Linked DNA regions of Homo sapiens. The protein of the gene in region 2 purifies or fractionates together with the protein of the main gene of each other region. This does not show direct contact. Each region holds a gene or a part of one and is shown on either strand. Other genes may lie near its edges. The genes, in order: PCP4, TMEM196 and ZMPSTE24.

Region 1 (3,656 bases), on a different chromosome or scaffold from region 2:
TAATGCAAGAGATGTTTGCAACAATAAAAGAGACAAAAGTAATCCCGAGTATATCTGATAACAATTGCTTTTTTCTTTTATTTTTTGCCTTTAGCGACAAGGTGCTGGGGCAACCAATGGAAAAGACAAGACATCTGGTGAAAATGGTAAGAGGACATGAATAGTCCAAGTTCTTTCTCTTTTGCCATCTGCAGCCCTGGGTATGCAGCAGGTGCGGATCATACATCCCATCCCAAACAGCTTACTATATGTGTCTGCGCTTCAGCTTACAGAGGATTTTAGCAATTCACAGTGAGCACTGAGGTCTGGTTTTATGAAGAAAACTGAGCTAGCTAAATGCCGTGATAAGAAGTTTCCCTTCCATAGGAGGACTCCCATTTTGGGCAACATGGTAATTACAATGCAAATCTAGTTCTCTGCTTTCTTCATTAGGGTGGGTGAGAATCATCCAAGTTGTTGTGAGGATAAAATGAGATCAAACGAGATAAGTGATTTGAAAACTGTGAAGTACACAACTTCTGAAATGATGTTTTAAAACTTGCTTCAGCCCTCCGGAGCACACACAATGCGGTGCTGGTCCACTGGAAGGTGCTGAGTCAGTGAATGTCACTGCAGCGATTCACCAGCAAATAAAAATGATAGCAGTGACAGGAACATTGCATCCTGCCTCTTCATGGGCCCATCTCAACCATGACCCTAAATTGTAGGAATGATCATCATATTTTTATGGATCAGGAAATGGAGGCTTGGCATTGGGGTGAGATTTAGCTAGAAATGGGAAGTGCATGGATCCTGAAGGAAATAGAGCCAGTTGGAACCCCAGGTCTCTAACTTTAGCAATTGACATAAGAACAAGCATAATAATAAAAAATACCCAGTGGTATGCACCAAGGGCCACAGCATAGTTCCGGTGAGGTGAGACTCTGGGTGTTCTTCCTTTCTGTTAACTCAAGATGAACTCTCCTTTTATGGAAAATGACTCTTGCTTCCAACTAGATGAAATTGATGCTAGTGTCCATCAATCAGATTGTGGATAATGCCAATCTCAAATACCATCGGTTAAAATTCCCTGGGGCCTCACAACCCCTTTGGAGCCTCTGTGGTGGGTCTGAGCTGAGCAAGACTCAAGTATGAGAATGTTGCTCTGCGTCTGCAGCCTGCCAATATGCCCACCCATTTAGGGCAGTCCTATTGGGCAGGGTGAGTGCAGTGTTCCCTGGGTAAAGGGGTCATCATATCAATAAGTAGAGAGGTGGGGGCTCCACAATGTCCTAATTGGAGCTAGGGGGCTGGGAGAAGAAGGAAACAAGGTTTTCCATGAGGCCAATGGCTCTTCCTTTGCTGCCCAGGGCTTTTCCTGTCTCCTGTGTGTGAGTTGGGGTGGGTGTGTGGGGTACTGGCAAGGAAGGCAGGAAGCAGAGGAAGGAGCAAAGGATGGGGCTTAAAAGGGAGGAGCAATATTGTAGTTGCCTATATGAGGAAGGACCCACTGCCTGCCATAGGGGAGCATAGGGCGCTGTGAGCCTCCACTGATTTTCCCAGTTCATACATTCGTAGCCATCTGTTCATGCAAGTTCCTTTCCACTGAACCTCACAACCTTAGAATTAGAGTTTTACAGTCAGAAGACTTCTCAGAGATCCTCTATTGTCGTGATTCTCAACTTTTTTTTGAGACAGAGTTTCACTCTTGTTGCCCAGGCTGGAGTGCAATGGGACAATCTCGGCTCACTGCAACGTCTGCCTCCAGGGTTCAAGTGATTCTCCTGCCTCAGCCTCTTGAGTAGCTGGGATTACAGGCACCCACCACCACGCCTGGCTAATTTTTGTATTTTTAGTAGAGACAGGATTTCACCATGTTGGCCAGGCTGGTCTCGAACTCCTGAACTCAGCTGATCCACCCGCCTCGGCCCCCCAAAGTGGTGGGATTACAGGTGTGAGCCACTGCACCCAGCCAACATTTTTGTTCTCACAACTCCTTTCCATTTTAAAGAATTCTTGAGGACCCCAAAGAACTTTTGTTTATGTTGGTGATATCTATTGATGTTTGTCATGCTGGAACCCTACTGACTCTTATAGAGATGGTACTGAAGAAAAGACCTGGAGCCAGTGAACAAGACATAGGATTTATTGAGGGGAGTTACCTATAGGGCAGTCCAGTGGCGGTGGGCTGGATAAAAGAACCACAGCTGCCTGTAACAAGCATGCAGTTTACACAGCGTTTTCACTTAGCACCCTCCCTCTAGCAACTTCTACTTGGCAATCTACATTCATTCCAAAACAAATGTCCCCAATCCCCTGTATGGCCTGCATCCCATGGGATGGGCTGGGAATTCAGATGTTCCTCATAGATAAGAATGAATCTCTATACTGGCCACTCCCAGATTCCTTAGCTCGGAACTCGACTCCAAGCACACATTCTTCTTAGACCATAGGGTCATTCTCAGGGTATGCTTAAGTTACGCTATTGATATCAGGTGTATCTGCCATACACTGTCTCCTATATTAGAAATTAAAATGGAGAAAGTTTTAAATGGTTTTTCTTATTAATTTATTAAAAATAAAATAATAAACCCACTACATGTGAATGTAAGTAACATTTTAAAAAATGAAAAGTCATTATATTTTCCAAAATGGAAAAGGATATTTAGTAAAAAGTGGCAATTTTACATTTCTGCAACTCTCTTTAAAGTCTGGTTTGACAGAGGACAGCTGGATTTTCATACTGGCTTCTGTGTTCAATCTGTTATATCATGTGATGTGTAGCCTATGGAAAATTCCACTGCTCACTTGTGAGAGTATGAGATTTAAAAGAGCAAATAATATCCTTTAAGATCAAACTCTTACCTTTTATAATAATAATATCTTTTATAAGACCAAAAATGTTTTTGATCTTTTGGGCTCCCTTAAAGGATGTAGGCACCCCCCAGGGTACCTGGTTCACACTTTGGGAACTACTGCTCAGCATGTCTCATGTCATGCCTTGAGGAGCCTGAAGACCAGGCACATGGTGACGAAGCCAGGACTAGGTCCTATGTGTTCGATGTCTCTGCCCCTTGGCTTTATCTTGACATCCTATTGGTCTTTCAAACCATGCTGACATGCTCAGTGCTTTGCACCAAAGGGAATTACCGGCTACTATAAGTGATGCCATTTTCTGCCATTCAAAGACATGGAATTTCTTTTAGCTGAAAACCAGTCCACACCAGTGGAAACTGAGTGAGGTTTTTTATGGAGGTATAAAAATTAATTAAATGGAAATATTCCTGATGCTATGAATAAGGCTTTTCATTAGATAATTCTAGATATTAAATGATAGTCACTTTTGGGTAGAAAAGTGAATTTGAGATTATTTTACAGTTACTGGATAATGGCAATGTATAAATGTAAATTATTATTAACATGCTATACTTTAATTTCAGCTAAAACTGCCTATATATGATATTTGTACGTGATACTTTATTATAATTTAAAGTCTGTGCTTTTGCCTTTAAAAAGGAGCAAAGACAAAAACTGGAACAGCCCAAGAAAGATGAGGGTAAAAACTTCTAGAAGTAATCTAAAAAACATTTTCCTAAAGAATTGAAGTTACTTAATTTTTTATTCTTAAATTCCTGATATGAGACGATCATCTTGGAATTTCCATTTTAACCTAGTAT
Region 2 (3,656 bases):
ACTGTAATATCTGCACTGATAGACAAGGCTTTTTGTCACCTTATTAAAAAGCCCCTTTATACTTGAAGATCAAATTTACATAATCAAATGCATCTCCTTAATAGAACAAGGGAAGAGCTAGAAAAGGGAATTCATGCAATTTCTAAAACTGGCATTATTGAGTGGAGAGTGTATTTAGTATCTGTGTTTTTCCTCAGTATAATACATAAAAATCCATATTTATAGGGTATTCAATATTTTATGAAATACTATTTTAAGCACTGTGTTTTTGAATAGACAGACTACAAAATGTTGTTGAAAATAGGTGTACCCATGAATTGCAGAGAAAAATAAAATAAAATTTCTATTCTTAACCCAATAGAGCCAAATGTATAAAATCTGATTCCTCAAATTGTGATCTAAAGTTTCAAGTTGATTCACCCAGAGTGGACTTCAGTCTTCATCATGTGCTAGCAGTGAGAGGAAAAGGTACAAAACTCACTTTCTCAGCCATTTCATGAGAGTGATGCAGGGAATGCTCCCTTTCTGAGAACATCCTCCTCTGTTCATAACTGGCTAGTCGACAAGTGAGCCAGGAAGAGAGAGTGCAGCCCCCGATCCCAATGCACGCGAGAGACATGGAGGCAAGGTGCAGTGGGTATAGGGAGGAAGTTTTCTTTGTGACTGCCCGGAGGAACTGAAAATTCAGGATGCCCCCAATAAGTCCACAGATACAGCAGGCTGAAAAGAGGATCATCTGATAAGAAAAAGAAAGGCAGCGTTAAAGTTGAAAAGGCAAACCTGACCAGAACACAGTTGCCCTGTCCGGCTGCATGTCAAGGATGACTAGCCTACAATAAAGAAGAATAAGCGGTTTTGGTGCTTCACAGAGGACAGGAGATTTTTTTTTTACATTTTATTTTTGCCAAGTTTCTATTCACTCTGACTCACAGTAGACAGAGGGAGTATACCACAGTGTTTCAGAAATTGATAGCTGACTATATTAAAGCCAAGGATATAGCTTATGAAAACTCTGAAGCAAACAAAATTTATCGTCTAGGTAGATTCAGATTTAAATATTTATTTAACATCTACCGTGTGCTACCATGCTAGGAACTTTAACAAATATCATCTCAATTGACACTCCCAGCAAGCCTCTGAGATAGTAACATACGTTTTAGAAAAATGAATGGTCAATAGCTAACACTAAATTTAGGCACCAAACCCAGATTTTTCTGATTCCAAATCTACTTTCACTGTGTCAGTCCTTCAAAAATATCTCAATAGCTTCTCTTTGGATTGTCATTAGTTCCACCTAACTTCAAATCTTTATATCTTCCTACCTATGTGAGCTTAGGAAATTTAGTTAAATCTCTTTTTTTAAAAAAAAGTTCACTCATATTTCATTGTGCATGTATTTCCTAAGCAAGTACTTTAGGGACTCCTATGAACTGACCCCTATATATTACAAATATTTTATTACTTTGTGGCACTATCATCATTGAAGAATATACAATAGGCGTTCCAAAAATACTGTTCGTTTGTTCGTTTTAGAGAAACAGATGATGTGGCTTTGCTTTTGGTCCTACTATTGGTTGAATCTCGGTGTCTATTAATAGAGCTAGGGGGGTTTAATCAACAACTATCATAGGATCCCTGGCAGAACCAAGAATAATGCTTTCTGAGAAGTAAGTACTTTGTGAATATTTAATAAATTTAATTAACTAGTCAAATAACTTTAATAATTATATTTTCTTTTTGCATCTGGTCTAAATTCTTCTATGGGCTTTCATGATACTTTGTACTATGATACTAATTGAATTATGCAATCTAATTTCCATTCTTCTCGGGAACACAGACTTATTCCAGTCACCTCTCTTGTCCTTCAATATGGGTTACTCATTCCCACATCAGTGACATTTTTCATTTCCTGGAAATAATTTTGCTTCTTCCTTAGACTCATGGATGAAAGGCACAAATTAAGTCCTAACTTGGACTTTATTGATCTCCTCCTTTGTTGTAATTCCCCAGGTCAAACAGCTTTGTAACTCACTTTAACATTTAATTTTATTTTATCAGATATTATTTTTCATTGACGGTTGAGTTTAGCCTGCACTTATTGAGCACTTAGCATCTGTTAGCCCCTGAGTGCAGCAGCTGCTGGCATTACAATCAATCATTCATAATAATTCCTCTTGAGAATAGTTAAATCTTGTGAAAGAGAAGATCCAGAATTTTAACATGGCATGATAAGTATTAAGAAAGGGATACATGTGTTGCCCTAGGAGTAGGGAGGAGAAGAATTTAGCCCAGCCAAGATTTTTGGAGAAGGCTTTCTTGAGAATATGTCAGGTCAGTAACTACAAGTAGTTAATTTCATTTCTTCAACTTAATTCAGCATTCCTTATTGCATCTGTAAATATCATCAGAGCTAAAAATCCAATAATGAACGGGTAAAATCTTTTTATACTTGATTAAATATAATACTGAAGATCAGTTACCAAATAATTAAATCATCCTACTAAGTGTAAACTTGTAGCTCAAGATGCCTAGTAGAATTAACCAATTATATTTTATTTTAAAGTAGATTTGGATGTCATGCTGTTCTTTGGGGATATATTTTGGTGTTTACTCATTCTCTGAAAATACGGAAAGATATTAAAATCTAGCTTCAAATAATTAATTATTGTTATAGAGAAAGCAGACAATACCTTTAGTTTTCTGTTACAGGAAAGCCCATGTCTTTGCTGATGTCATTCTGATTAATTCTTTAAAGGCATGACACCTCATTAACATGTGTTAACAAAACAATCTTATCCAGGAATTAAAATGTTTAAATCTGTAACCATATACTATTTTCAAATTTCACCAGGTTGGAGACTCTAGACTGCAGATATATTTGGAGTGAAATTTTTTTTTAATTTCATTAAAATGTAGAAAATATTGATAGTTAAATGCCATCAATGGGGACCTTAGAAAGTACACAGGATAATGTACCTTCTAATAGTAGGTACAGCTACCACCTGGGCGGTAGTTTCTTAAAAAAATCAGATTTCATCATTTTTTTCCTTGTAATTTATAAGAGAAAGACAGAGAAGTGCCACTATTGCCTTTGTATAAAACAACAACAACAAAAAGCCTCTTCCTTCCTTTTTTATTTTTTCCTTCCCTCCCTCCTCTTTCTTTCTCTCTCTCTTTTTTCTCTTTCTCTTTCCTTTTGTCATGCTTCCTTGCTTGTTTACTTGCTTTCTCCCAAGGAGTTGTTCCTACATAGTCATAAAGAGTCTTCGTAGAGGAAGGGCATAAGGAGAATGAAGACCATGTGTAAAAAATGATGGGAGAATCATAAATGCAAGTTACAAGCCTGAAAAAATACATTTTTTTCTAAAGGTTTCATTTTTCCCTTTATGTAATTTTTAAAAATTACATCTAAAATTGCTGTCTAAAGCAGTGAGGGCTTTAGCCTTTTTGCCATAATAGATGTTCTCACGAAGAAAGATGTGATTAGAAAAAGGGGTCAAATAAAAATAACTGCAATGCTTCCCATTCCCTGATCTGCTCAGATAACTGGCCTCACCTTGGAAAACTCTCTTTAGGCTCAAAGGGTACTTCCTAGGGTCCCTGTGTAGTATTAATTTTGCCAATTTGTGTCTATGTTCTTTCCCATAATACTTGGT
Region 3 (3,656 bases), on a different chromosome or scaffold from region 2:
TGCCTTAGTCTCCCAAGTAGCTGGGACTACAGGCGCCCGCCACCACGCCCGGCTTTTTTTTTTTTTTTTTTTTTTGTATTTTTAGTAGAGACAGGGTTTCACCATGTTGGCCAGGCTTGTCTCGAATTTCTGACCTCAAGTGATCCGCCCACCTCGGCCTCCCCAAGTGCTGAGATTACAAGCATAAGCCACTGCGCCTGGTCCAAATAGTGCTTCAATAAGCAGTTTTTCTGCTTAAATCAGCCACAGTTGGTTTCTATTGCTTGCAGAATTCTAATACAATGTTTAGTAGGTTCCTCAATATGTAATATAGCCATTAGAAGTCTTAATTCCCCACAAACCTACTCTTCTCCTATTTTTTTCCATCTCAGGAAACTACCATATATCTAACTGCTCAGGTCAAAAGTCTAGGCCATTATCTTTGATGTCACTCTTTCCCTTATTCTCCCAATGCAATCAATTAGAAAATTCAATCAACTCTACCCTAAAACTTGTCCCAAATGTATCCACTTCTCTCCATTAATTACTATTATCCTAGTCTAAGCTACCATTATGTCCTACCTAGACTTTTGCCTGTCTCTACAACATATTCTCCATACAGTAGCCCAGGATATTTTAAAAACACAAAGCAGATCATGTCACTTTCCTGTCTAAGCCTTCAATGGCTCTTCCCACTGAACTCAAAATCCAAACTCCTTACCCTGACTTACAAAGGCCTATGTGGACTGATTCTTGCCTATGTCTCAGATTTCATCTCCTAACACTCTCCTGCTATGGTGCAGCCACACTGGACTTCTTCATGGTCCTTGAACATCTTCCCATTGACGTCAAATGGGCGGCTCCTCCCTTTAGGTCTCAGCTCAATCTGATGACCAATCTACAGTATCAACTTATCAGACCAAACTAGTTTAATTTGCTGCATAGCACTTGCTATCTGATAATATTTTGAGAGCAAGATTCTTGGCTTTTCACTACAATCTCCCTACCAATTTACAAATATGTAATGTGTGTTGTTATTGTCAGCAACAACATTCATTCATTCAAAATATTTTTGAGAATTGTTACTGTTGTTAACAACAATTAAAACATACATTATAGGTGAGTAAACTGCTGTTTGGCAAAGCTAAGTTGCGCAAAGTCACACAAGTAGTTTGTCTCGAACTCCTGACCTTCCACCTCAGCCTCCCCAGTAGATGGGATTACAGGCTGGAGCCACCAAGCCCAGCACTGGTAATCTGTGGTAGAGCTATGATTCAAACCCAAGCCTTTTGACCCTGAAGCCTGACGTCTGAAATGCTGCCCCCAACCTACTCAAATCTTGACTTCCCATTAACACCCAGCTCAGGTCATAACCTTCCATAAAGCCTTCCCTGACTATTTTATCTAAAATGAAAATAGCTCTCATACTCTGGATGTTGTAGGGGGAAAAAAAAAGATAAAAAGAAAATAGCACCGATATATTTCACATATTCTATTGACTACCTCCACTGTCATAGCATTAACTATTATTTCACGTTATCTGATTGTAACTTAAGGGATCAGCAACTTAGGTTGCTCCTTCAGTAAAAGCAGCTTAGAGACTATTCTGTTGTACTGATTAATGATTAAATTTCTAGTTTAATATTACCTAAAAAAAAAAGAGTAGTTATTTCAGAGGCTAAAGAAGTAAGTATGAACTGGCTTATTCTACCATTTCTCCACAGACTTTTAAGCTACTCCAATCGTGCCTTTAGTTGGGCTGTATATCCTCAGGAGCCACTAAATGTCTGACATATATATATATATATATATATATATATATATTTTTTTTTTTTTTTTTTTTTTAGACAGAATTTGGCTCTTGTTGCCCAGGCTAGAGTGCAATGGCTTGATCTTGGCTCACCACAACCTCCACCTCCAGGTTCAAGCGATTCTCCTGCCTCAGCCTCCCAAGTAGCTGGGATTACAGGCACGCACCACCACGCCCAGCTAATTTTTTGTATTTTAGTAAAGACAGGGTTTCACCATGTTGGCCAGGCTGGTCTCGAACGCCTGACCTCAGGTGATCCGCCTGCCTTGGCCTCCCAAAGTGCTGGGATTACAGGCGTGAGCCACAGCGCCCAGCCAGATGTCTGAAATTTCTATGTTCTTCCAGTTGCTGTTGATTCATTCTTTTCAGTTGTGACCATCTCTGTTCTCCTCTAACCCTGTGATTGTTTCTGCTTCTATTCCTTCATCTAACACTGCTGCTTCTCACTGGTAATATTTTATTTTAGAGCAGGGATCAGCAAACTGTAGCTCACAGGCCAAATCCAATCTGCCATTTATTTTCATAAAGTTTTATTGGAACACAGCCACACTCATTTGTTTAGTATTGTCTATGGCTGCTTTTGCGCTATAATAGTAGCACTGAATAGTTGCAACAGAGAACAAGTGGCCCGCAAAGCTAAAATATTTACTATCTAGCCCTTTACAAAAAACATTTGTGAAACCATAGCTTAGAGGAAATACAACTGAAACCCAGAAGGGTGAAGTCACTTGTCCAAGATCCTATAACTGGTAAGTGGCAGGAACAGAACTATTACATTCATTTATATGGACTTTATAAATTCTGAAAGTCATAGAACCTTACAACAGTTTCTCTCTACATCTCCGTAGTCTTCTTTGAGACTTTAATAGTCAACTACCAAAGTCTCAAAGAAAGTAATAGACTGGGTGTTAATGGGAAGTCAAGATTTGAGTAACGGTCAAGAGACCACTTAAATCTCAAAAGTAATCATCAAAAAAGCAGAGTATAACAAATCTGCAGTACTCAGTGGTACTGCAGTCTTTGGTAATCAATCTTCAGGTGAGTCCTCCAGAACACTGGATATTTTCTTGGAGGAGACAAGGCCAATAACACTGGCTTTGTTTAAGAGCCTCCAAACTAATACTAAACAGAATTTGACTATTCAAGAGTCCAACTTAACTACCTAAAAGAACTAGGCAGATAACAGAAGTGAATAAATCAGTCTAATATATAAGATAACATAACAGAGAGTGAAAAAGCCTTGGCCAAAAATTTAAAACAATACTGTAAAACCAAACAAACATAGCTGCAGACAAGAGCAGGATTTGGTATCAAGCCACCAGTTTCTATCCCTGGCCTATGTTATCAATTTCTGTAAATCTTAAAAAGCCAAAAGGTAAACTCCTAGCCTTTAAATAACAAATTTTAAAAAGAAAAAAACAAAAACTGATTAATTCTTTTATTAAAATTTTAAGAATAAAGTATCAAATAAAACAAACCACTTGGATAAAACTTTCTTATCCCCAGGTAGCCTTACCTTCCACAACATACACCTTCGTCAAAGGAAAGTCAATACTCTTTGCCATTACTTCAATTTCTTCTTTAAGCTTTCCCTCAGGCAGAGGTGTGAATTTGTCAAATAAAGGGGCAATATAATCAGCATAGATTGTGACAAGAACCTGAAAAGTAAATGTCAGAATAACATATGAACATGTTCTTAAAGAAAAAACATTCTTTATTATACAGATTAAATTATATTAAAACAACTATGTTGACCTCAAACTTGAGAACAAGGAACTTACTTGCTCTGGTATTCCCAGGCCCAAATAGTACCAGATAGTAAGAGCATAATATCTGTCTGATGAATTAAATTGAAATGAGTAGTCTG

What was found.
Region 1: the proteins of TMEM196 (region 2) and PCP4 purify together in Homo sapiens (affinity purification with mass spectrometry; one large-scale study listed by BioGRID and IntAct). This does not show direct contact.
Region 3: the proteins of TMEM196 (region 2) and ZMPSTE24 purify together in Homo sapiens (affinity purification with mass spectrometry; one large-scale study listed by BioGRID and IntAct). This does not show direct contact.

What each region holds. Positions count from the first base shown.
Region 1 is NC_000021.9:39,898,382-39,902,037, forward strand, and holds part of PCP4 (calmodulin regulator protein PCP4), read left to right. Parts: intron 1-94; coding exon 95-146; intron 147-3,656. UniProt on the Homo sapiens protein: Functions as a modulator of calcium-binding by calmodulin. Thereby, regulates calmodulin activity and the different processes it controls.
Region 2 is NC_000007.14:19,725,033-19,728,688, forward strand, and holds part of TMEM196 (transmembrane protein 196), read right to left. Parts: intron 737-3,656; coding exon 482-736; intron 1-481. UniProt on the Homo sapiens protein: Acts as a tumor suppressor in lung cancer. Inhibits tumor cell growth by inhibiting cell proliferation and migration and promoting cell apoptosis.
Region 3 is NC_000001.11:40,271,685-40,275,340, reverse strand, and holds part of ZMPSTE24 (CAAX prenyl protease 1 homolog), read right to left. Parts: intron 3,448-3,656; coding exon 3,306-3,447; intron 1-3,305. UniProt on the Homo sapiens protein: Transmembrane metalloprotease whose catalytic activity is critical for processing lamin A/LMNA on the inner nuclear membrane and clearing clogged translocons on the endoplasmic reticulum.